Linked DNA regions of Homo sapiens: region 2 is linked to region 1. Evidence: fine-mapped expression QTL. A gene starts in region 1. The other region holds a variant in brackets. All regions are shown on one strand. Distances are between the middles of the regions.

What was found. PIP is the estimated chance that this variant, and not a neighbour inherited with it, causes the effect.
Region 2: its variant is the best candidate, but not a certain one, in a credible set for the expression of SMYD3 in blood mononuclear cells (TOPMed, PIP 0.60).

The regions. Positions count from the first base shown.
Region 1 is chr1:246,505,529-246,508,294 of GRCh38, forward strand. SMYD3 (SET and MYND domain containing 3) reads right to left here and starts at 1,751. Exons shown (of 12, transcript NM_001167740.2): 1 at 1,526-1,751. The coding sequence starts at 1,689. RefSeq lists enhancers at 702-1,202, 1,203-1,703 and silencers at 1,389-1,438, 1,709-1,888, 2,378-2,610.
Region 2 is chr1:245,813,654-245,816,686 of GRCh38, forward strand. All of the region lies in intron 10 of SMYD3 (SET and MYND domain containing 3), which reads right to left. Among named protein-coding and RNA genes, the nearest start is that of SMYD3-AS1, 290 kb to the right of the region's middle. RefSeq lists an enhancer at 2,565-3,033. The variant GCACA/G (reference allele first, on the strand shown) is at 1,209.

The DNA.
Region 1 (2,766 bases):
AGATCCCAGCCCCAGCTACTTTTGCAGTGCAATCCTAACTTGGTTCAGCCGATGCCCAGTCAAGTCTTGGCAGACTTTAAAGCAACACTGAGAACTCCCCCAAAACTCTTTCATTAAATTCCTTTTTTGCTTAAATCCCCAGTTACTGCAAACAGGAAAAATGAATGAGACTAATGAAATAGTATGGTAAATCAACAAGCATCCCACCCACAAAGGGTTTGTGTAGCTTATTTTGGAAATGCACAATTCCGTGTGTCACAAGACTCAACTTCAGCTCTAATGATTCAATTGCCAATTTGTCACCATTTATTCATTCCAAAACTTTTCTGTTCCAAGAACTATCTTGAAAGGAACGAATTGTTTTCAACCACACAGTTTACAAAAACTTCAAGATGCTGCTCTCTCCCGAACAGATGTTTTCGCTGTTATCATTACTTCAGAAAGCAACAGACAAAATTATTATTTGGTAGCTCTAAAATGCAAAGTCATATTCCTGAATTATGAATCAAATGAGAACAAAGTAAGAACAATGGTCAAATTACAGATACGAGTTTTGCACTTACCGTCCCACCTCCACCCACCTAAATCTCAGACTGGCAGGTCTGAAAAGCGGCCATGCACAAAATCATCGCACTCATCTCAAAATAGAACTCTTCTTCCTCGCACACAGAAGCTCAATAATATTTGTTGACTGAATGCAGTTCCTATTATTCATGTATGTTACACATTTCCATAAATTGCTTTCACATAGCACTTTACACCGGCACAGCGCGTCCAGGCTTCCAAAACACCTTCACGTGAATCCCTGCATCTAGAATGGTGGTTAAGAGTTAGACATGCCTGCACAGCCATTAAATGGCACAGCACACGGGGGACCCGTGTCTGATGCTCCCACAGCACATTAATTGCCCCTCTATTTCAGCCCTTCTGGTACACTGTAATTCTCTCTCTCACTTGATCAGCTCTTTGAGGAGGTCCCGTTCCTCTTCGTATCCCCAGGCCACACACAACCCAGACCACAGAGGTGCACCGTAGACATCAAGATTCTTCCACCTGCTGCAAGCCTGATGCTTTACCGGCGGGGCCTCTGCAGGGGAGCCTGATTTATACTCATCCCAGCTCCCACCCAGCCCCACGCCCGCCACGTGTGATTTCCACAGCCGCACCAAGGAAGACTGTCCAGCACACAGACTTTTCGTCTCCCAGCAAAATTATCCCCGGCACAACGCTTCCCCCTCAAGTCTGCCCAATGGCTTTCCCATTTCCACCGCAGCCCAGGTTGGGGGGCAGTGGCTGAGCCTGGGCCCCCTCCCAGCCCCGCTGCGGCAACCTAGGGGGGTGTCCGGGCGGGGCCTGTCAGCAGCGACCCGCCCCCGGGCACACGCGCGTCAGGGGCAGCACCGCCAAGCTGCCTGTGCAGCCCCATCCAGCAGGAGTCCCGCGGCTGCCGGCCGCCCGACGCCCCCCCCTCCCCAGCACCCCACACAGCTCGCGACTCAGGTAGGCGAGGGCGCTCCTTACGCACCCGAGAAGGCAGCGGTCGCAGACGACGCCACGACTCCCCTTGCACACCGTGTACGCCAAGGGATCCGAGCGGAAGAGTAGCTCTCCGGGGCGCAGCGGGGTCACGGCGCGCAGCCCGTTTCCCCTCTTGGCGGTTGCGAACTTTTCCACCTTCAGCGGCTCCATCCTCCCGCAGCTCCGGCACCTCAGACGGCTACCCGCGTCCAGCAGCGGGCGTCTCACGGGCTGCCGGGACCCGCGCGCCTGCGCCCTGCGCGCACACGTACGCCCGAGGGGCGGGGCGGGCGCGGTGGGGCAAGAGCATGCGCAGATGGAGTCTGGAGGGACGGCTGGAGTGGAGTGTGTGGGACCTGAAGGTGGTCGTAAGGCTCCGCGTGCGGCTCGTGCCCATGGCGACTGCGCAGAAGACAGGCGGGGTTTTTTTTCTCCCTCTAACATTGTATTACGATCATTTTAACGCATACGGAACAGTTGAAAACAGTGCAGTGAACACCTATATACCTCCGCCTAAATCAGACAACCTAGCACTTTGCCATTTCTGCTCGTCACTCTCTCCCCACCTGTAGCTATGTATACACGTATTGTCGTTAAACTATTTCAAAGTTGCAGGCATCATGACATCACAACTAGTACTTTGCACTGTAACTTTTTTTTGTTTTAGGACGGAGTCTTGCTCTGTCGCCCAGGCTGGAGTGCAGTGGCGAGATCTCGGCTCACTGCAACCTCTGACCTCCGGGTTCAAGCGATTCTCCTGCCTCAGCCTCCATAGTAGCTGGGACTACAGGCATGTGCAATCCTCCCGCCTGGGCCTCCTGACTAGATGGGACTATAGGCTCACGCCACCATGCCTGGCTAATGCTTTTTACTTTCCTCCAGAGACAGTCTACCTATGTCGCCCAGGCTAGTCGCAAACTCCTGGCCTCAAGTGAACCTGAACCTCCTGCCTCGACCTCTCGAATTGCTGGAATTACAGGTGTGAGCCACCACACCCAGCTTAATTTTCTTTTTTGTTTTTGGGGTTTGTTTTGTTTTGTTTTGTTTTTTGAGACGGAGTCTCATTCTCGCCCAGGCTGGAATGCAGTGGTACGATATTGGCTCACTGCAACCTCTGCCTCCCGGGTTCAAGCGATTCTCCTGCCTCAGCCTCTTGAGTAGCTGGGACTACAGGCGCCTGCCACCACGCCCGGCTAATTTTTGTATTTTTAGTAGAGACGAGGTTTCACCGTGTTAGCCAGGATGGTC
Region 2 (3,033 bases), 690 kb before region 1:
CATGTCAAAGGGTTTACTGTGATTTCACAAAGCTCCATAGAAAGCCTCCAAATGAAGACTGGCAGGCTGGGAAAGTCTCTGAAACCATGAAGAAAAGGGACTAGTGGAGGAGCTGCCCTCAAGAGAAAGGCAAGATGTTGAGTTTAGATGGCCTCAGAATATTAAGCACCTAACCTGCTCTGTCATTTAGGTTAATTCATGGAGCCCTATATATATATATATATATATATATATATATATATATATATATACAGATGAATCACTGGCATGAGATCAGCTAAAATATTCATTGTAGTTGCTTTTAGGTGATTGTAGATTTCTTCATTGTTTCACCTTTTCCGTATATTTTTAAATGACAGCAAAATTTTATAATAAAGTTTTTATAATAAATTTATTTTTATAATAAAGAAAAATAAACAGAAGGCAAATTGATATCCTCACATAATGTGGGAGCTACAAAAGGGATCCTAAGTCAAAGTTAGTGCCCTTCCTGTCTAGCCTGGGAGGAAAACGTGACTATTAAATTAATTACTGAATATGATGTGAACTGCAGTTCTGAGGACAAGGACCTGCATTTCTGGTCTACTCCTGTTTTGAAGGTAAACAATTTAATAATTTCAGTGTATAGCTACCTCCAATTATCCAAACCACTGTCTTCATAGGAATATAAGAAAATTAAGGTAGATACCTGAAGCAGCACCAGGAATCAGGACAGATAGAGCTCAGTTTTTTAAAAGAAGATTCTTTCCTGGTCTTCTTCAACTGGGGGCAAAAAAAAAATAAAAACGAAAAAATAAACAATAAAAATAAATAAATAAAATAAAAAGAATGCTACTGTTACACCACATACTTGTTTTAAAGTCTTGCCCTTCTAGTACTGACTACACGCGGCCCCAGGGACCTGTGAAATGGATGCTGCTGCAAGATTTTATTTAAACAACATCTTGATCTTCTGTGCCATGTGACTGGCATTGCGGAGAAGCTGCTCTTTCTAAAGGCTTCAAGGTCACTTAAGCTTGTGCCGGCTCTGCTAAGAGCTCCGATGAGGAATAAACTTTAAGATCTTCTACTAGACAGAATTTTGGAATTCCCAGCAGACCTGTTTCCCTTGGCTTCCAGATCCTCTCAAATGACCTTATCCCTTATCCCACCATGCACACACACACACGCACGCACACACGCACACACATGCACGCACACACACGCAA[GCACA/G]CACACACGCACGCACACACGCATGCACACACACACACTCTATCTTCACTGAAGGCTCCCAAGACATCTTCCTCACAAAACACACAAAACAAAGACAGCTGTCCATTGGTGCTCAAAATAAATGAAGGGTAAACTAAGCCCACAGACACCATGAGGTGAGGTGATATCAGAAAGCCAGAGCAGGACAATGGTCTTGATCCATCCGCTAAATCTTTAGGTACAACCTCCAAGGAAAATGACTTTCAGTCAAGCCAGGCAACTATTGCTACCAACAATAAAACAGAAGATGCTTTTACACTCATGGCCCCAGCATTGTTTCTCACAACTAAAAGAGGCCAAACATCCCAACCAGAAAAAAACACAAACACACACAGGAAGCAACTGTTAACAAATGGAACGTGATAGTGGCAGAGCCCAGAAGAGCTGTTGGTTAACTCAACACGAAGGAGTCCTTGCCTCTCATTCAGGGGTGCACACAGACATGACCCTACCATGCTTTTCCTTCCATCCCAATCTCCATGGTCATCTAGTCCAAGCTGTACGCTCTAGTTTTTCTCAAAGTGGAGCTTATGGGTAACCTCCATCAGAATAGCTGGGGAGCTAATGACACATGGATCCCAGATCAACCAAGGGGATTTTAGAGACATGGGGCCTAGCCCCCAAGTGACTCTGATGCATATTAAGACTTGAGCATCACAGGTCAAGAAGTACACAGATCCCAGTTATCAACATAGCCAGATGGCTGGTGGTAGAAGCAACCCTGTCCCTGTAGCACCTCTCTGTGTCCTGCTCAAAAGCATTAAAACATCATTCTTAGATAAGAACAGAGACAAAGGATATGTCTTTAACACTTTACAGTCTATAAAGTTTTTCCACAGCCACTGTCTCACTGAATCAACCCCTAAGAGACAGAAATGAAAATCGCTGTTTTTACAAACTGAGAAATTACGGGCCTTTGAAGTGTTTCACAGCCTTCACAGCCTGCTGGTAAGAAGCAGAGATCAGGCCTTGGACCTGGGTCTTGTGATTCCAAAGCCCATGATCCTTCGGATTCATCAAAGCTCCACTCCAAGTGCCTACTGGGACTGCCTTGCAGCACTCACCTTCTGTAGGTGAGTAGGTAAGTTGCGGCATGCCATTCTTTCAAAAGAACAGTGCACCTCTGTGACCGAATATGGGCCACAGTATCTCAAGGATATTTTGGTCAAAGCCCTGGGGTGTGGGGCAGAAGATAATGTATTCAATGAAGCTTCTAGAGAAAAGCATAATAAATAAAGAAGCTCCTACCTGTCGCTAGCCTTCCTAAATATCCCAAGAAATCAAGAATTTTCTCCCAATGGATTACAGCTGAGCATCTACTCAGAAGAGAAAATCAAGTCCATTTCAGTTTAGACGGCAGCAGCAAACTCCCCACAGAGAGTACTCCCGGGGTGGCTAGGGGGTGGACAGTGCCATTACTGTATCAATCAGGCCAAGGAGTGGGGCTTGCACTACTGTTTGCTAGAATGGAGCTTGGCTCTAAAACAGGATTCTCAGACACATTTCAGAATAGGACGACTGGAACAATGCAATACTCATCTAAGCAACTGCAAAAGCCAGCTACAACCCAACTCAAGGTGCCATCTATTATGAGAGGTCCCCTTCATCTATGTAAAAAAAAAAAAAAAAAAAAAAGAGGAGCCAAGATGGCCGAATAGGAACAGCTCCAGTCTACAGCTCCCAGCGTGAGTGACATAGAAGACGGTGATTTCTGCATTTCCATCTGAGGTACCGGGTTCATCTCACTAGGGAGTGCCAGACAGTGGGCACAGGTCAGTGGGT